Homo sapiens: one gene and its partners. The protein of the gene in region 3 purifies or fractionates together with the protein of the main gene of each other region. This does not show direct contact. Each region holds a gene or a part of one and is shown on either strand. Other genes may lie near its edges.

Region 1 (7,112 bases), on a different chromosome or scaffold from region 3:
ATCAAGACATTTAAAATTCAATTTCTAATAGCATTGTACCTCATACAATAAAAAAAATTCCACAAAAATCACAAAAGGCCATATACTAATTTCATGTAATTTTCCATATTTCTTTAATAACTATTATAGTTATTGAAGAGATGAGCATCTGTTATTCAAGATCTGATAAGATATTTATCAAATGTTAAAAGAAAGGAAGTTTAAAATATTGTAAAAGTTACTTAAATATCTCTACTCAGAGACTACTGTCATAATAATCTAGATTTTAACATGAGCAACTTCTTTTTCAGAGTAAAAAAGAATTACAATTTGTTAGACTTATTTTATTCAGCATCAAGTCACAGAAAGGGTAGATTAGAAATCAGAAGAATTGACTTTTACTGCTACTAATGAAATTAGTGGAAAAATTGTTTAACTTCCATTTCCTCATCTAGAAACAAAGCAGTTGGACTAAATAATTCATCAGGCTTATTTTTCTGCTCATAATGTTATTATTCAGTGAATAATTATTCATAAATTGATAAAACAGAAGGGCTTATTTTTTAATAATTCCTAAATTTGAAAGTGAAAACAGAGTTCATTACTAGCCTCCATGTTAAATTTCCCAAGTCAGCCCATTTAGAACACTCTAACTCATTTATATTAAAAAGTATTTTCCTGGCCAGGCACAGTGGCTTACCCCTGTAATCCCAGCACTTTGGGAGGCCGAGGCTGGTGAATCACTTGAGCTCATGAGTTCAAGGCCAGCTTGGGAAACATCACAAAACCCCATCTCTACAAAAAATACAAAAATTAGCCAGGCATGATGGCACGCACCTGTAGTCCCAGCTACTCGGGAGGCTGAGGTGGGAGAATGGCTTGAGCCTGGGAAGCAGAGGTTGCAGTGAGCCAAGATGGTGCCACTGCACTCCAGCCTGGGTGATAGAGCCAGACCTTGTCTCAAAAAAAAAGTATTTTGTTTTCTCAGGGTAATCATAAAATCTTATTTAAAAATAAAACATTGTATGCATTTTTTAAGTCTCTAGAGAAAAAAATACAACATTGTGTCTAGCATTCATCATCTATTATTTGACAAAGAAAACAATCCTTCTTGTTCAGTTAGATCAGCCTATTTAAATGTCTTGCTTTTGGAGACAACTGCTGACTTCCAAAAACCCCACAGGAAAAATATTGCCCTAATACTGGTGATGAACCTGCTACACTGGCAAGGACTCACCTCAAATCTGCTGCACATGGCTTCACAAAATACAATAACCAAATTATCATTCTGTTTTCTGACCTAACTCAAATTTGCACATACTCCACAGATGGGAGATCCTAAAGAGCCTTGCATATATCCCAAGCTGGTGTGCTATCAAAAGGAGCAGTTCCTGCCACGCCAGAGGTGGTAGGCAGGAATCCACAGGCCCCTGAATGGCATATCTAAAATACGGTGAGACAGCACTTGGTCAGGGATGTGTGACACTTTCACACACATAATTCTCAATCAGAAGGGGCCTACGGGGTCCAGGTAGCTGACATATGATGACTGGAGTAGGCTGTCAGAAGATGATAATTAGCAAATGACCCTTCCTCAATGTCAGGGATAAATTACGCTGCAGTGGGAATTGTGGCATATACATAAGCCTCATCTAAAGAGTCACTCTTGAACTCCAGCCACTTGGTGTCATATGGGAAGACAGGTCGTGTTGCCAGATCTTCCAAGTTTTGAGGAAAGCTAAAAATTCATATTTGTATGTGTCTTGTTTTTTTAATTATGGTTTAAAAAAAAACCTAACATAACATGTACCATCTTAAGCATTTTTAAGTGTACACTTTCAGCAGTGTTAAGTATAGTCACACTGGTGTACAATTGGATCTCCAAACTTTCTTATCTTGCAAAACTGAAGCTATACTCATTAAATAGCAACTCTCCATTTTCCCCTGCCTCCAGCCCCTAGCAATCACCACTGTACTTTCTGTTTCTGTGGATTTGACTACTTTAGATACTCTGATTTTTTTAAAGGGGGCAACTGATAAAATGTGTAACATTCTGGGTGACTACTCATTTATGACTCCTTATAACATTGATGATTACTTAAAGCACTTCCAAGTTTCTAGAATGCAAAAGGCCAGCTGGATGAAGAATAGGTGACACACTGACATCAAAGTCAAAGACATATTATACAGCTCACATGTGCTTTTCTTATAAAAAGACTAAAGCTTTAAAATATGCTTTATGAATTCTTACCATCCCTGCTTGATGCAAGAACCACATGAGGTAGTCTTCCTGAATGTCCACGAGATTGGAAATCTCAGGAATGTAAAATGTATCATATTCCACATGCTTCACTTTAAGATTTACCTAATGAAGAACAAAATACAGACAACTGAAACATGGCTTCCCAGAGAACATCTCACTAGGACATTTTACCCTACCATCTAATCACCCCCTCCCCACTAGCACCTCCTATGCTCACCTTATATAACTTCTCCAAGAGTTTGAGAGCTGCTGTGATATAATTGTTAAACAGTACGGGAATTAAGAATGTCTTTCTTCCCCTCAGTAGATAAAGGACTGCACCTTTATAGAGGTTTACCAGCTTCATGAAATATTTCGGGCATACCTGAGACCACCAGTTATCTTTAGAAAGAAAGAAAAGACATATTTCAACATGTAATCTTGGGCAAGTATTTATGTCTTCTGCCTGCCAGTTAAAAATTGCTTTGTCTAGAAGATAAACATTAGTCTAAAATACATTTTCCCAAAACTGACTTTAAAAAGAATCCATTAAAACCTTTTTGGGGAGAACAACAGCTGTAAAAGAATCCCTGGAGCTTTTTTTGTAAAGCCTGGTCTGATTTTTTGCAAAGACTCAATCTGAAGGTTAACTTAAAAGTCCAATTCCAGACTACATGTGGACAAGATACACATATTTTGGGCAGGAGTGATGCCCAATGTATTAATCCAAAAAGCATTCTTATGTCCTAGCGCTTTCAGCCATCACTAAATCCTGAAGCAGAAATGCAAAGGATGACGCACCACATACCCTAGAAGCAGCACCAATATGGCAACCATTCCCTTCCCTTTAAGAGGTATCATTAGTTGAAAAACTACGATTTTTACTTCTCACCAAAAAATGCTTTCTCATAACCAGACAAGAAGATATACCACTGGCTTATACTTCGTTGGAAATAAACTCAGCCATACTGAAATACTTAAAGAATGAAATAGTATGTCTGAGATTTCCTTTAAAATACTCCAACAAAAAATAAAAAGGTGGTGAGGGCGAGGGACAGATGAAATAAAATGGGCAAAATACTGACAACTGCTGAATTTGTGTGGTGACTACCTGTAGCATACTCTCTACTTTGGGGTATTCTTTTAAATATCAATAATTAGAAGTTAAAAATAAAGTGTAAAATTGAACAATTATGTTCTCTTTGTATTTTCCAGCCTGGAAAAATAAAAATGAAAAAACTCTAAAACTTGAAAGTCAGGTAAGATTTCTTCTGATATTGCCACCTCTCTGTTTCACATCAACTAGAACACCTGAGAAAATGTGCCCCCAAAAGGCTTTTGATCTTAAAAAAAATTAAGTACTAACATTTACTAGTGCTTTCATTATTATTTCTGTTTTTATCTCTTCTACAAAGGTGGAGGCAATATAGAAAAGCCAGTATTCCACCTTCAGGAACACAATCTCTTTATTCACGGCGAGACCACACTCAAGTAACATCCCAGTCCATCTGGAACACAGAAGTTACTGAGCTGCAATGACACCTAACAAAATTTACCAGGGGGGAAAAAAGTAAAAAGCCAGGTGATAGACTTCCTGCACTTGAGTAATAAAAACATTTCAGGTGCTACTCCCATGAAAGACACTCTCCAAATCACTGAGGAATGGAAGGTTTTTATCTCAGCAAAGTGTCCGGAGCCTGCAAAAATCAGTGTGGACTCAACGGTCCTAAAAAAGAAAAACAAAACAAACATTTGGTAAGTCCACACTAGGTCATTTTCTTCCTCTCCTGTTTTGGAGACCTCTGTATCACCGAAACTGTTCACTTCACTCCCACCCCCTAAATTAGACATAGGAGAAAGACCAACGTACAGTAATACTGAGGTACTGAGCAAATGTGGTAGAAAAAAATAGTTTCAAGTTAAATAAATTAGGTTTGTGAATACTATAAAATCAAGATTATTCTGGCATGAGTCATTTCAAATAATCTAAATAATGGTTTTATTTTCAACTTGAAAATAGGGTTAGCTAAAAATTAACAGCAAAGAAAAAAAGGTTTTAAGTGTTAAGGATATTAAATGGCAACAAATAGATTCTTGGATCTCAATCCACTGAGAGCCAGGAGTCACACCAACAAAACAAATGACCATAAAACCACTGATATCGAGGTTAGCAAATTCACCTAGTACTTTGCTGGGGTTTGTATCCAGCCGAAGAATGGCCATAGCCAAGGGAATAGTCAATGTTATATAATACTTGGAATCCTGGAGTAGGGGAAACTCAGGTAGTATTAAATAGATTCTCATGGCTTCAACATCTGGTGGTGAGCTTGACAACTGGGGAATCAGACAACTTTCAAAACTGTTCAAAATCTGTATGAGGGAAAAGAGTAATGAGAAATTCAAACATACTTGAGATCTAGTTAACTTTCTCTAAGTTCATAAGCTATTTGATAGACTCTCAACTCTCATTCATTCACTATGCACTGAGAACCTACTATGAGCCTGACACTGGTCTAGGCCCTCAGTACACATCCATGAAAAGAAAAGCCAAAGATCCCTGCCAGTGCAAACTGTATATTCTAGAGGGGCATTGCCTTGGAAAGGTTTAAGCCAAAAGAAAGCAAAAGGTAGGTCTAATTCCCAGAGTAAATACTTTACAAAATTAAGATTTGGAGACTTTCACTTTTTCATCTTACTCTTTTTCTCTTGAAGTTGAATTCATCGATACAAAAATGCATTTTTAAGAATGCACTTTACAAATATAGAAACATACCTGTTCTAGAATCATGGAGTGCTGAGAGTTCATTAACTTCTCAAATAACACCCTAGTTGAGTTCAGGTCAATCCCAGGGATTTTGGGACTCGTTTTAAAATGTTCATCAATTCTAAACAAACAAAATCAAAAAGGTATATAATAAAAGAAAAAGCAAACACTCTGATAGGAATTATAAACAAGTAAAATACTGTGTTCTTAGTAATCAGATTTAAATTTGATCTGGCAGATAAGATCCACAAAAATACTACACTTTGCATAAATCTCAAAATAATAAACCCAAAATACAGAATATTATTCTTTCACAAAGAATAAACCACACTGGAATTCCTTTTACAAGAATTTTCAAATTTTTAAATCTGTTTTCCTTCAAGTCAAAGTACAAGGACTGTCATATCAAGTTAAGGCTATCTTGAAGTTTATAAACAAATAATTATTTCCCTGATTTCATCTTGTGTTTTTTGGTTTTTTTCTGTTTTTGTGGCTCATTGAACTAGATGTAGATGCTGTGGCTTGGTACAAATAACGTCCCCTGTGCAAACTGGTCCACTCATCAACAAATGACAGTAGAACTTCCTTGTTGAAAGCCTTTCTTACCAAAGTATTTAAAATAAAAATGATCTATAGTAAATGCAAAGTTAATGTCTCTCATCGTTAACACAAAGGATACAATTACATTCACCCAAGGACTAATTTCATTGCCACTATTTTTAACTTTCTAGCAACTAAATCATTTTTTTAACCTTAAATAAAATCTTAGCATTTTTGAGACTTAGAGAATATCTCATATATCCTGCTCTTGAACATACCACATTTGTTAATTTACAAAAGAGCTATCTATTTGCAAAGCAGGCTTCTGTTTTTGAGTAATGGACACATTCAGATGATTTTAATACACTCTGACAGCAATGTTATAATTTTTGAAAACATAAGAGTTTCTAACATTTTTTAAAAATCATAATTATATGTATCGGAACCCTATGCTCAAATGAAGATAAATTGCTTGTACTTTGTTTTTTGGGTCTTTCGTTGTTGTTGTTATTGTTTTTAAAATAAATCTGCCCAAAATATAGAAATGAATTCTGGTTTCCCATATGTAATTTTCCATATGCTTTTTGCTATGCTGTTGAGAAAACAAAAACAAAATGTTTTATCTATACGTATTTATTGCTTTGTAAATCTGGTCTTCATTTTGATTGGTTTCCTGAGATGCATCCTATGTACGCTACAGGAGTAGACTTTCTGAAATACACAGATGTCAGTTTGAAAAAAAATAAAAGGCTTTCCCCACAACTCTATACGAAATCTGTGATACTAAGGATGAACAACCTAACAAGTCTGGCCAAGAGCCCTTCCCAAATGTCATGAAAGCTATCCATCTAGAACGGGGTTTCTCAACCTTGGTACTATTGACTTTTGGGACCAGAGGATTCTTTGCTGGGCAGGTGGGAATGAAGGATGTTTAGCAGCATCGCTGGGTTCTACCCACTGGATGCCAATAGCAAGTCCCTCCCCATTGTACCAACCAAAAATGTTACCAGAAATTGCCAAATGTCCTTTGGGGAGCAAAATCACCCTGGTTGAGAACCCCTGTTCTGGAAGGCCAACATCAGCATAATCCAGAATATCTTTCCCTAGAGGAAAAAACTAATTACTAAATATGAAATGAATTGTGTGAGCTCATCCCAGCTGCCTTAATTATAAAAGTAAATGACTTTATAATCTCTAAATGTAACCAAAGAGAGTTTCTGAAGTGACCTCCTGCAACCCAGTTAGGGACTCATTTGTGGGGAGGGGGTGGTGATGGTTGAATTTAGGAGTCAACATGACTAGATTAAGGAATACCCAGATAGCTGGTAAAGTATTATTTCTGGGTATGTCTGGGTCAGTTTTCTGTAAGAGATTGGCATTTGAATTAGTGACTAAGTAAAGAAAATCCATCCTCATTCAGTGTGGGTAGGCACCGCCCAGTCAGCTGAAAGCCCAGAACAAAAAGGCAGAGCAAAGACAAATTATTTCTCTCTTCTGGAACTAGGACATCCTTCTTCTCCTGCCCTTGTACATCAGAACTCCAGGTTCTGTGGTCTTTGCACTCCAATACTTACACCAGCAGCCCCC
Region 2 (6,549 bases), on a different chromosome or scaffold from region 3:
GTGTAGGGCCCACTGCAGACTGGCTCTAATTATGTGGGAAAGTCGTTTAATCTTAGAGCCACAACGCTTTGAGATTAAGTGATTTGCTCAAAGGCTAAATGGAAATAGTACCACTTATTTCAAAGTAGGGCTGGGATTCAAAGGAGGTACAGCTCTTGAACTAGAGTTTTCTGTCTCCATTGGTGATAAGCCTTGTTTAGAGATGACCAAAGACTGGCACTCTTTTTCATAAAAGCAGCTAGTTTTAGCTTCCTCCCTCAAGCTCACCCTCCTGCAGTTTGAAGGAAGTTTCCAAATAATCTTATTTAGAAAGAATAGCATTTACACTGGCCAGTTAGGATATCTTAGGACACACCAGAGTAGCAACATGAAACACCCACTTCTGGGGGAAAAAAAAGTGTTATAATTTGAAATAAAAAAAAAATACAAGTCTTGGGAAATTAGAGACCAATGTGATAGAAATCTGGAGGGACTTTTCACAAATGCCGACTTCTGGTTTGTGCCTTTCCCATATTTTATTAAATTCGTGTTTTATTTTAAAAAATTACAGCAACATTATCAAAGACAACATATGTACAAACATTTTACAAAAAAGAACATTACCAATATCAGTGGCAGTAAGGGCAAGCTGAAGAATAAATAGACTGAGTTTCCGGGCAATGTCTGTCCTCAAAGACATCCAAACTGCGTTCAGGCAGCTGAAACAGGCTTCTTTCCCAGTGACAAGCATATGTGGTCAGTAATACAAACGATGGTAAATGAGGCTACTACATAGGCCCAGTTAACAAACTCCTCTTCTCCTCGGGTAGGCCATGATACAAGTGGAACTCATCAAATAATTTAAACCCAAGGCGATAACAACGCTATTTCCCATCTAAACTCATTTAAGCCTTCACAATGTCGCAATGGATTCAGTTACTTGCAAACGATCCCGGGTTGTCATACAGATACTTGTTTTTTACACATAACGCTATGCCATCCCTTCCTTCACTGCCCCAGTCAGGTTTCCTGTTGTTGGACCGAAAGGGGATACATTTTAGAAATGCTTCCTTCAAGACAGAAGTGAGAAAGAAAGGAGACCCTGAGGCCAGGATCTATTAAACCTGGTGTGTGCGCAAAAGGGAGGGGGAAGGCAGGAATTTGAAAGGATAAACGTCTCCTTTGCGCCGAGGAATCAGGAAGCGTGACTCACTTGGGTCTGGGACGATACCGAAATCCGGTACCCCACCCCATCCCCTGCCCCGCCGGGTACCTACAAGCTCGGTTCCTTTCTCAACTCCCCCAGTTCCTTGATCTCCACCTTCTTGTACTTCCCCGACTTTCTCCGGTTGGTGATCACCAGGACGGCCATGCCGGCGACGAGGGCCACCACGACCACCACGATGACGGCGATGAGGCCGGCGGTGAGGCGCTTCATGGAGAACTTCGGGGGAATCTCGTCCAGGTAATAGATGAGCGTGCGCTCCACCTGCAGGGGTTCTCCGCGCACGCGCAAGTCCAGGCCGCCGCGGCCCTGGAATAGAGACTCGCCCTTGATGTCCCTCTCGAAGTAGTAGGCGGCATCGCCGATATCCACGTCACCGGCGGCCTTCTGAGACGTGTTCTGCCGCAGCTCGATCTGGATGGTGGGCTGCTCGTAGTGCACGGCCGCCACGAACTTGGGGTGCAGCCGATAGCGCTCGCGGAAGAGCCGCCTCAGCTCGGCGTCCAGGTCTGAGTGGTTGAAGGCGCCGGCGGTGGGGCGGTGGCGCAGGTCAATGAGGATGTGGTGGGTGCGCACCAGCTCATCGCAGCGTAGGCTCAGGTCGCCCTTGTCCGTGCGGCGCACGCCCACCGAGTTCACGCACCAGCACACCGACGTCTGGTTGCACTGGCGCGCCTTGAAGCGGCCCTCGGGGTCGCAGTCGGGGTCGTAGAGGCCATCGTTGTCCACGAGCGCGTGCTCACTCGGCCGCACCAGCGTGCGGGCGTTCTTGGGGGCGCTCATGCGCGCCTTGAGCAGCAGACACTTGGAGGTCAGCGTGGAGCAGTCGACCGCCATGCCCGAGCCCAGCGCGCGGCACTGGCAGCGGCCGCCGGGGCCGTCGGGGCTGCACACGGTCATCTTGTTGGTGGGACACGTGCAGTTGTCCTGCGCGGCCGTGTGGCCGGTCACCGCCGCCAGCACCAGCAGCAGCAGCGGCAGCCGCAGCGGTGGCGGCGCGAGGCCGGGGCCCCGAGCCATGGTGGGGCGGAGGAACGCGGACCGGACGCGGGCGGATGAGGCGCGGGGACTCGTCGGGGCTCGGGCTCCGGCGTCTGGGATGGTCTGCAGGCGTCTGCCGCCCGGCCGCTCCCTCCGGCTCTTATACTCTACCCGACCTGCCCGGCTGGTTCCACCACCGACCGTCCCCACTGGTATTTGGGTGACACATCCCGCCCCCCTCCCCGTCCCACGGAAGGCCAAGCCGGCCCTGCGCCGCCCGCGATAGGATCAGAACAGGGAAGCTGCTCCCGCCTCCTCCGGACCGAAAGCCGGGAAGGGGAGAACCGATACTCACCTGTAGGCTTCTGGGGACCCGCCCTCGGCGCGGCCTCCTGCTACAGACCTGGCGCGTCTGGGCCGCTCTCCCGGCAGAAAGTCTAAAGAGTTTCATTGCAAAGTGTGGCTCGCGACTGTCGCGCTCTCCTCTATACGCGACTCCCTTTTCGTTCTTTCCCAGCCCCAGCCCTCCCTTAATTTCTCTCACTCCCTCTCTTCTTTGTCCAGTTCTCACAGTAGCACACGTTTATATAGTTTACAGTTCACAAACATTATCTCATCCTAACACCAGTCCTGACAGGTAGGGACTATCAGACCCGTTTTATAGGTGGTACTGATGAGGCTTAAAGACCTGAAGTCACACTGCTATCAACTTCCTCATATTTCTGAGAGGGGTCTTTGGCACCCTGCCTAGGAGTGATGAGACCTTAAATAAAGTGTTTGTGGACACGAAGTGACACAGAATCTGAAGGGAAGTTAGGGAAGCAGTTCTGTTACTCACCATATCAAGGGTAAAACACAGGTATCCTGGTGTCCAGAGGGTTAAAAGTTCTGTTAAACACTAATTTTCTGTACCTCACACAAGCGCACACACACAGGCACACACGCACATAATATTTATTTGTGCACTGGCTATAAAGAGACAAACAGGAACAAATTCTTAAAGAGCCAGCAAGACTGTAAAGAGTTTTTTGTACAATTTGATTCTAACACAGCAAATCGTTGCTTTTCTTTTCCTGTATCCCACGTAAGTAGCTGAACCATGTAAATAATGAAAGAATGGAGCCTGTGAGAAATTGCTTGTCTGCCACTGTGTGGCTAGTTTCATGGCATACAGGGGTTGCAATCTCTTTTTGAGTCATTGAGAAAGTCTAGAGTTTCAAAGCTGTGGTAAAATTAACAATAATTAGCAAGCTATAATTATTCCCAGGTCCTCCATCAAAGCACATTTTATATGTTCAGCATTTAATGTGCACCACCAGTCGTGCAAGGGTGTTGTTTAGCAGATGAAAGCCAGCTGGGCCTCTGTCCCATTAATTTTCACGCAATTCCTGAGGCAGGAAGATTGAAATATATTCTGCCTTGACAGACAGAGGAAGCAGAGACATGTGAGGGACAATTTCTTTTTTCTTTTTTTTTTTTGAGACGGAGTTTTGCCCTTGTTGCCCAGGCTGGAGTGCAATGGCGTGATCTCGGCTCACCACAACCTCCGCCGCCCAGGTTCAAGCAAGTCTCCCGCGTCAGCCTCCCGAGTAGCTGGGATTACAGGCATGAGCCATCAAGCCTGGCTAATTTTTTTTTGTATTTTTAGTAGAGACAGGGTTTCTCCATGTTGGTCAGGCTGGTCTCAAACTCCTGACCTCAGGTGATCCGCCCACCTCAGCCTCCCAAAGTGCTGGGATTACAGGCATGAGCCACCACGCCCGGCGAATTTTTTTTTTTTTTTTTTTTTTTTTTTTTTTTTTTGAGACGGAGTCTCGCTCTGTCACCCAGGCTGGAGTGCAGTGGCATGATCTCAACTCACTGCAAGCTCCACCTCCTGGGTTCATGCCATTCTCCTGCTTCAGCCTCCTGAGTAGCTGGGACTACAAGCGCCTGCCACCACGCCCGGCTAATTTTTTTGGTATTTTTAGTAGAGACGGGGTTTCACCGTGTTAGCCAGGGTGGTCTCGATCTCCTGACCTCGTGATCCGCGTGAGGGACAATTTCTTATCCACAAACATGAGGAATTGTGGGATAGTCCTCTGCTGTCTATCCCCACTGTCTCTGTTCAGGTCTTCCTTGGACAGATATCTGAGTCAGGTTCTAGTTTCTTTTCCCCTCTCCGACCTCGGTCCACCCTGCATCCAAGAAGACTTTCTAAATCAGAAGTCTGTGCCCACCTCCTCTCTGTTAAGTAGAGTGAGGGGGGTGCTCTCGGCTCTCCAGATAAAATTCATGCTTCTTATATTAGCCCTTAAGATCATTCCTATATGATGTTATAGGCAAGCTACGTCTCTGTGCCTTAGTTTTGTCATCTGTAAAATGGGGATAATAAAAGTACCTACCTTACAAGGTAGGTTTTATAGTTAATGCAGATAAACTGCTTTGAAGAGTATCTGTTCTAACAGTATCTACACATAGTAAGCAACGGATAGATGTTAGCTGCTGTCATTTGTCATCATCGTTGTCGTCGTCGTCGTCATCATCATCATCATCATCATCGTGCTCCTGCCAACCTCTCCGGCAGTCCATGTTTTCAAGTCTTTGCAAAGTCACCTACCTGGAGTCTCCCTTTCTTTATTTAGTGCATAATTCTGTTTTTCTACTCAGCTCTTGAGTCACCTCCAAGATGCCTTCCCTAATAAGGCCCTCCCTGTTACACTCAGGGATATGCCTCTCTATTCGTTCCTAATCTCAGACATACTAGGATGGCAACATTAACTTTTCTGGGCTTTTGTCCTCCCATCTGTCAAATGGGCAAAATACAGCCTGTTTCGTAGATTATGCTGAGACTCAAATACAAAGAGATGAGATGGTAGATGCCAAAGCTTTGTAAACTCTAAGACTCTGTAAAAATATTAGATTTCACTTTTATTTCTAAAATATATATACCCTCTTCTTGCTTTTCCAGGTATTAACTAGGTAGCCACAATGTTCTATAACTAGCAGAGTTCTCTATTTTCCATTCCATCAGGTCCCAGGCTGGCAAGAGGAAAGCTGATGAGAGAGGGTTCTCAGGGCTGAGGAATTTGTGTGATGGTGTCATTGACTACCAAGCTAGAACAGCCCCACATGGGTGGTACTGGGGCTAGTGCTCTGAGGCATCCAAGCCTTTGCTTCTTCCAATTATGTTAGGTACTGAGAGGACAGGAATAGAAGGGGCCCAGCCTCAATATCTTCTGGGGAAGTTAGAGTAAGGCAAAGATGACCTCCTAATCCCCTCCCCCCACAGACTCCACTTGCTTAAATTCTCTGGTTCTGCCAGGCTTTCCCCAACACACACAAAGACCACAATGAGTTTATTATGTAAACACAGTCTCAGCTGTGATTCTCCCTTTTCCCTTCGTCCTTTTTCTGCCAAGTTCTGCAAAATAGCATGTATTAGCTTTATCTCTTTTTATTTATTTATTTATTTATTTTTGAGACAGAGTTTTGCTCTTGTCACCCAGGCTGGAGTGCAGTAGCATGACCTCGGCTCACTGAAACCTCCGCCTCCTGGGTTCAAGTGATTCTCCTGCCTCAGCCTCCCAAGTAGCTGGGATTACAGGTGCTCAACACCATGCTCAGCTAATTTTTGTATTTTTAGTATAGACGGGGTTTCACCATGTTGGCCAGGGTGGTCTCAAACTCCTGACCTCAGGTGATCCTCCCGCCTTGGCCTCCCAAACTGCTGGGATTACAGGCGTAATCCCACCACACCCAGCCTGTATTTTTTAATTTTAATTTAAAAAATATTTAACACAAGCATTTCAGGCTTGTCATGTGTTTATGAGGGGCGGGAAGCACATATAAGCACTGTATGTAGCCCCAGCACCAGAATATTAGGCACTAAGTAATGTTTATTGGATTAACACTGAGTTGTGCCCAGAATGTTTCAATATCAATATATTCTCCTAGGAGTGTTCATGTGGACCATTTCAGTACTTCTTTCCTTGTCTAAGCCTCACCACCTGCCCCAACCATGAATCTCTGTCCCTACCCTAACCCACCCTCCAAACACCCAATTTCAAGGAAGACTGGGTAACGATGCCCTTATTGTCATTTTTGTCCAATCCTTAACTTTTGTCAGCCTTGTGCCTGCAAGGATGAAGGATATGATCTGAGGACACCAAGAGCAGCCAAAGATTCTATAAGCAAGTGTATAATGTAGTTGAAAGAAAATGGACCTTGGATCCAGTGAGACTTAGGCTCAAGTTTTGGCTTCACACCACTCACTGCTGTGTGTTTCTCAGCAAGTTGTTTCAGCACTCTGCGCCTCAGCTTCCTTAACTGTAAAATGGGGGTAACAGGGCCTACACTGCATCAATGCCTGTGAAAACAATGAT
Region 3 (7,196 bases):
GGTAGTGTTCTGAGCAGAGAGAGCAGGGAAATCAGGAGGAGGAGTGGTTCAGGGAAGAGGCAGGGGTTCAGATGCCAAGTTCTGCATTGGCCAAGCTGAGTCAGAGGTGCTGGGAGACTCCCATGTGGGTCTGGGGATAGAAGAAAGCTCTGAGTTCAGCAATGATCATGGAAACCAAGGGAGGGTTGACAGCACCCTGAGGTGGGGGAGACATGGGCACTGAGGAGGGATCTTGAATGATTCCTACATTAAAGACATCCTGACTGGGCACAGTGGCTCATGCCTGTAATCCCAGAACTTTGGGAGGCCGAGGAGGCCGGCCAAAATGGTGAAACGCCGTCTCTACTAAAAATACAGAAACTAGCCGGGTGTGGTGGTGCGCACCTATAATCCCAGCTACTCAGAAGCCTGAGGCAGGAGAATTACTTGAACCCGGGAGGCAGAGGTTGTAGTGAGCCAAGATCACACCACTGCACTGCAGCCTGGGCAACAGAGTGAGACTCTGTCTCAAAAAAAAAAAAAGGTATCATTTCTCTAGACCTGTGCTATCCAATAGGGCAGCCACCTGCCACACACGGCAATTAAGCACTTGGAATGTGGCTAGTCTGAACTGGGAAGAACTGCAAAAGTACAGTACATACCAGACTTTGAAGACAGGATGAAAAAGGGAAGGTAAAAACTATTACGTTAAAATTTTTAATAGTGATCACGTTGAAATGCCAATATTTTGGATATATTGGATTAAGTAAAGTATATTATAAAAATGAATTGTTTCATTTTACTTTTTAAAAATGTGTTTACCAGGAAACTAAATTAGCTGGGCAAGGTGGTAGGTGCCTGTAATCCCAGCTACTGGGGAGGCTGAGGCAGGAGAATTGCTTAAACCCAGGAGGCAGAGGTTGCAGTGAGCAGAGATCGCACCGCTGCACTGCAGCCTCGGCGACAGAGCAAGACTCTGTCTCAAAACAAACAAACAAAACCAAAAAACCCCACTACTCATGTAGCTTGCTTCATATTTATGTTGGATGACACTGTTCTAGAACCTGAATTCCATAGGATGTGGGATAAGTGTTGCTGAAAAAACTAAAGCAAGCTGGGAGAGTGGAGGCTGATGTTTGCAAGATGCCATGTTACTCGTGTCTGGGGGGAACCAGTCTCTGTACTCAGGACTTCTCAAGGCAGGCATCATCTCCCAAACCAAGTTGCCCACAGATACTCCCCCTTCCTCTGGACTTCCTGTGAGAGGAGGGTTCGGCAGAACCCACTCTGAGAGATGGTATTTTAAAGAGAATGATAAGCCTGTCAGATGACTAGGCGGGGAGAGAGCGAGGACAGGCAGAACAGAGGTAGGGGGTGCCACAGGACCAGAGGGAGGGGTGGCCAGTGGGGTCTTGGGGCTGCAGAGGGGTGAGAACAGGTGAGAGATGCAATAGAACTCCTCTGGCCAGGTTTGCAGCTGGCTTGGCCAAGCTCACTCTGTAGGATGCAGGCGGTAGCGGAAGCGCACATCGTGGCTGGGCTGCATGGTGCCAAAACCCCAGCGCTGCGGGTCAACATGGGGTAGTGGTGTGTCAGGGTCCACCAACTCTAAGTCAAAGTGTGTGACCATAAGCAGGATAAAGAGCTTCACCTCACTGAGTGCAAAGAACCTCCCAGGGCAGATGGAAACGCCCGAACCCCAGGGCATGGTGTAGTGGTGGATCTTCTTGCCTGTCTTGAAGAAGTCCACTTTCCGGCTGCCATTAGGGTTGAGGAAGCGATCGTACTTGAAGACGGTGGGCTCAGGGTGGATGTCAGGGTCCATGTGCACTGAGAGGTAGGGAAAGAGGGCCAGGATGTCTCCATGGCGGAACAGATACTCCTGCCCACTGGACATCTTCAGGGTATAGTCTTCATGAACCAACCTGAGGAGGGTGGGTGCAGCCCTCAGCCGCAGCGTCTCCTCCACCACGCTGTCTAGAACTGGGGTGTGTTGCAGGGCACCGAGTTTGAAGGCAAAGGACTGCTTGGTCTCCAGCCTGGCCTCACCCAGGACCTGGGTAGCTTCCTCCCTCACAGCCCGAATAGCTTCTGGGTGCTTCAGGAGGTACAAGAGGGCCCAGAAAGAGGTAGGCCCCGTGTTCCCCTGGGAGGCCCAGAGCATCATGAAGTTGAACTTGTCCTGCATAGCTGAGGGTACCCCCTGCTCCCTCAGAAACTGAAGCATGTTGCCCAGCCAGTTGCTGATGCCCTCCTTCTCCTGGCTGTGGCTCACGGAGAGCATCTTGTGAAAGAGACGCTGGAGTCGGCCCACTTCTAGCCACTCCCGGGGCCACAGCAGGGAGTAGACAAACCTTGGGAAAAGAAGGTCAAACTTGCGGAACTCCATGAATAACTCTCCTGCCTGTAGCAGGTCCTGCTCCTTGTCCTTCGTGTAGCCGAACAAGCTCAGGTAGCCAGCTGTGAACAAGATGTAATAGCAGAAGCGAAAGAGGCTGTCCTCATGCCAGCAACTGGCATCCAGACTCCAGCCTTTGGACGTCAGCATTACAAAGGACAGGCTGTCCAGCATGGTCTCATTAAGATCCTTCAAGCCATCCCCCCTCAGATGCTTGGTGCTGGCTGAGTGTATCATCTCATGGTCCCCTTGCACTGAACGGTATCCAAATACCTTCAGCACCAGTTTTTTTGCATATTGCCCAAAGTCTAGTTTTCTCTGTGTGTCCTTGAGGATGGAGCCAAAGGAGAGGGGGTCCATGACGAAGGTGAAGTACTGGCCCCCTAGCTGCACTGTGAACACATCCCCATGCTTGGTCCTCATGCGCTTCAGAAATTCAAACATATTCTTCCGGAAAGCCATGGCATGGCCAAGCCAGGGCACGGTACCCTTGTCCAGAGGGGGCTCCCATGGCCTGCGTTGTCGGAGCATCCCTGGCAGGCACAGGTATCCAGCAATGACCACCAGCAGAGCTCCCAGCACTGGACCCCAGAGAACCATGGCTATGCTCCTGCGGATTAAGCTCTCGACACGCACACTGTTCCCTGGGTGCCAGAGAGCTTTGGGAGGCCTTGGAAAGTCCAGGATGTAAAGGTCTGAGCACCTGGACCTTGCCCTGTGGCCGCAAGTTATGGCAAATAACACTAGTGAGACAGTACTTGGAAGCAGCAAAATGTTCCCCTGGACTTAACACTTGGCTGACTGGTCACGTAGGGGAGGAGGAGGTAACCAGGAGAAAGCTCAGAGAGAAGCTTCCAGCTATGGTCACAGCTGCTCACCAGCTTCATGCTTTGCTCTGACCTTTTCAGACAGCTCTTGCACCTTCTCTCTAAGCCTGCCTTGAGCCCACTCCCACCCCCATAGCTGACAGACTATTTATACCCCCATTTACTCATGCTTTTATTTATTTGCCAGTTCAGTTGGTAGAAATGAATCAAGCACTTACAAAATCTCACTTCCACTCTTTCCTCATCTTTAGAAGACTCAACAAATGCCTCCATTCCTACTTGGCCCCCTTGGTCAAGTAAGTTAACCTCACTGTGGCTCCACTCCCTCATCTGTGAAGTAGGGATAATTACAGTGCCTTGTAGGTGCTGTTGTGAGGCAAAAAGAGATAACACCTGAAAAGCACTTAGAATAGTGCCTGGCTCATGCTAGTGCTCCATATATGTTAGTTAGTATCCTAAAGCCTTTTCTCTTACCTTTGCCTGCTCCCCTGGACCTCACAGCAGCCCGTGCTTATCTCCTCATTCTTTCCCTAGTCTGTCTTCCTCTCTGGTCTCAAAGATGCTTGCCAAGGGGGCATGACCTTGTTGAAGTCATGTCTGCTCCTACCTCCATGTGCACAGAGTACACAGTCAAAGGCAAGTGAAGAATGACTGTATGCCCTTCCACAACAGCTCTGACCCCTAACCCAAAAAAAGAGGCATTGATGCTGGGGCTTTAGATGCTGAGAAGGCTGAGATGGTGGAGGGGGTGTTGACTCCATCTTGGGGTATGAGTGTGAATGAACTCATCTGAGGAGGCCACAGAGCCTCCCAGATGATGACTCTTCAAGCAGAGGCTGAGCCCTCAGTCTCTGAGCCTCTCACCCGGAGCCCTCTCACCTGCCCAACTGCTTGCCTATACACTTCTCTGACAAGAAGGCAGAATCCTGGAATTGTAAAATGTCAGAGACAATAGAGACCTCACTCAATCACTTCATACTTCATTTCACAATGAGGATCTAGGTGCAGAACGCAGTGGGGACCCTCTTTGACAGCTGCCCTGGCTTGGGGCCTTGAGATAAGCTAATCATTGACTAAGGGCCTTCTGAGACATGTCAGCCCAGGTCCCTGCCAGCAGCTCAAGAGGGAGAAAACTGTACCATTGACGCCAAGGCATTAGTCAAGCAGCCTGGCCCATTGTTGCTATAGGTGAGGTTCAAACTCAATTCAATCAGTTCTGATAACCTCCAAATTACTTTTTAACTTCCTAACGACCTGAGAACAGGGACTTCGGCTCTTCAGACAAAAGAGGGTATGGAACTTCCATATCCCCTCTGGAGTGAGCTTCCTTTGCCTATGAGCTTCCCCTTGGCAGGGAGTTGGAACTGTCCACACTCTGCTTCCCAGAATCCCTCTTTAATTGTTCAGGACCACCACAGTACTTGGCATCATCAACTCTCCTCAACCTTAGAATTCGGTCTGAAACTGGGCCAAATCCAATGAACTGAACCGTGTCCCCTAGTTTTTAATGGATGAACCATTATTTCACATTCATTCTTACCTCATTCATTAACCCACACTCATCTATTCATTCCCTCCTTCCTTGGAGAAGCCCCATCTATCCATTCACTAGATATTTATTGGGCACTTACTGGCAGAAATGTTGCTACGATCTGGGATTATAATCATGAATGAGATAGACACAGTCCCTGCTCTCTTGCAGTTTATGGTCTAATGGAGGGAGAAAGATATTAAATCACTGCCCAAAGTAATTATACACATATTTCTCATTTAATGTGCTTTGCTTTATTGCACTTCACAGATACTATGTTTTTTACAAATTGAAGGTTTGTGGCAACCCTGCATTGAGGAAAACTATTGGCACCATTTTTCCAACAGTGTGTGCTAACTTTGTGTCTCTGTGTCACATTTTGTAATTCTCACAATATTTCAAATTTTTTCATTATTATCATTACAGCTGTTATGGCGATCTGTGATATGTTAGTACTGTAATTGTTTTGGGGCACCATGAACTGGGCCCATATATGATGCAAACTTAATTGGTAAATGTTGTGTGTATTCTGACTGTTCCACTGACCAGCTGTTCTCCCCTCTTTCTATCTCTCCTTGGGCTTTCCTGTTTCCCAAGACACAGCTATTTTGAAATTAGGCCAATTAATAACCCTACAATGGCATCTAAGTGTTCAAGTGTAAGGAAGAGCTGCGCTTTAAATCACTTTAAATTTCACTTTAAATCACAAGCCAGAAATGATTAAGCTTAGTGAGGAAGGCCAAGATAGGCTGCAATCTAGGTTTGTTGCACTACACAGTTATCCAAGTTGTAAATGCAAAAGAAAAAATTTCTTGAAGGAAATTAGAAGTGCTACTCTAGTGAATACATGAATAATAAGAAAAACAGCTTTATTGCTGATATGAAGAAAGTTTTAGTGGCCTGCATAGATCAAACCAGCTACAACATTCCCTTAGCCAAAGCCTAATCCAGAGCAATGTTTTAACTCTCTTCAATTCTATGAAGGCTGAAAGTGATGAGGAAGCAGTTGGAGAAAAGTTTGAAGGTAGCATAGGTTGGTTCATTAGGTTTAAGGAAAGAAGCCATCTCTATAACATAGAAGTGCAACGTGAAGCAGCAAGTGTTGATGAAGAAGTTGCAGCAAGTTATCTAAAAGATGTAGCTAAGATAATTGATGAAGATGGCTACACTAAGCAACAGATTTTTAATGTAGATGAAACGGCCTTATATTGGAAGAAGAGACCATCTAAGGACTTTCCTAGAGCAAAGTCAATGCCCTGCTTCAAAGCCTCTAAGGGTAGGATGACTCTCTTTTTAGGAGCTAAGGTAGCTGGTGACTTTCAGTTGAAGCCAAAGCTCACGACCATTCTGAAAATCCTAGGGCCCTTCAGAATTATGCTAAATCTACTCTGCCTGTACTCTATAAGTAGCAAGGCTAGGTGTGGTGGCTCGCGCCTGCAATCCCAGCAATTTTGAAGGCTAAGGCAAGTGGATTGCTTGAGCCCAGAGCTTGGAGCCCAGCCTGGGTAACATGGTGAAACCCTGTCTCTACAAAAATTAGCCAGGTATGGTGGTGCATGCCTGTGGTCCCAGCTACTTGGGAGGCTGAGGTGGGAGGATCACCTGAGCCTGGGAGGTTGAGGCTGCAGTGAGCCAAGATCATGTCACTGTACTTCAGCCTGGACGACAGAGTGAGACCCTGTCTCAAAACAAACAAAACAAAGCCTGGATGGCAGCTCATCTGTTTGCAGCATGGTTTACTTAGGCCCACTGCTGAGACTTACTGCTCACAAAAAAGATTCTTTTCAATGTATTACTACTCATTAACAATGCACCTGAGATCTCTGAGGAAGATGTTCGAAGAGATGAATGTTGTTTTCATGCCTGCTAACACAACATCCATTCTGCAACCCATGGATCAAGGAGTAATTTCAACTTTTCAGTCTTAGTATTCAGAAATACATTTCGTAAGGCTATAGCTGCTGTAGATGGCGATTCCTCTAATGGATCTGGGCAAAGTAAATTGAAAACCTTATGGAAAGAACTCACCATTTTAGAGCCACTAAGAACAATTGTGATTCATGGGAGGAGGTTAACATATCAACATGAACAAGAGTTTGAAAGAAGTTGATTCCAACCCTCATGAATGACTTTGAGGGGTTCAAGGCTTCAGTGGAGGAAGTCGCTGCAGATGGGTGGAAATAGAGAATTAGAATTAGAAGTAGTGCCAGAGGATGTGACTGAATTGCTGCAATCGCCTGATTGAACTTGAATGGATGAGGAGTAACTTCTTACGGATGAGCTAAGAAAGTGGTTTCTTGAGATGGAAACTAATCCTGGCGAGGATGCTGGGAACACTGTTGAAATGACAATAAAGAATTTAGAATATTACATAAAGTTAGTAAAGCAGCAGTAGAGTTTGAGAGCATTGACTCCAATTTTGAAAAAAAGTTCTATTGTGGGTAAAATGCTATCAAACAGC

What was found.
Region 1: the proteins of CYP8B1 (region 3) and HERC3 purify together in Homo sapiens (affinity purification with mass spectrometry; 2 studies listed by BioGRID and IntAct, with this or other methods). This does not show direct contact.
Region 2: the proteins of CYP8B1 (region 3) and TACSTD2 purify together in Homo sapiens (affinity purification with mass spectrometry; 2 studies listed by BioGRID and IntAct, with this or other methods). This does not show direct contact.

Annotation. Positions count from the first base shown.
Region 1 is NC_000004.12:88,665,371-88,672,482, reverse strand, and holds part of HERC3 (probable E3 ubiquitin-protein ligase HERC3), read right to left. Parts: intron 5,107-7,112; coding exon 4,995-5,106; intron 4,592-4,994; coding exon 4,402-4,591; intron 2,624-4,401; coding exon 2,460-2,623; intron 2,345-2,459; coding exon 2,231-2,344; intron 1-2,230. UniProt on the Homo sapiens protein: E3 ubiquitin-protein ligase which accepts ubiquitin from an E2 ubiquitin-conjugating enzyme in the form of a thioester and then directly transfers the ubiquitin to targeted substrates.
Region 2 is NC_000001.11:58,574,933-58,581,481, forward strand, and holds TACSTD2 (tumor-associated calcium signal transducer 2 precursor), read right to left. Parts: upstream 2,321-6,549; 5' UTR 2,225-2,320; coding exon 1,253-2,224; 3' UTR 501-1,252; downstream 1-500. UniProt on the Homo sapiens protein: May function as a growth factor receptor.
Region 3 is NC_000003.12:42,872,840-42,880,035, forward strand, and holds the start of CYP8B1 (7-alpha-hydroxycholest-4-en-3-one 12-alpha-hydroxylase), read right to left. Parts: upstream 3,041-7,196; 5' UTR 2,978-3,040; coding exon 1,472-2,977; 3' UTR 1-1,471. UniProt on the Homo sapiens protein: A cytochrome P450 monooxygenase involved in primary bile acid biosynthesis. Catalyzes the 12alpha-hydroxylation of 7alpha-hydroxy-4-cholesten-3-one, an intermediate metabolite in cholic acid biosynthesis.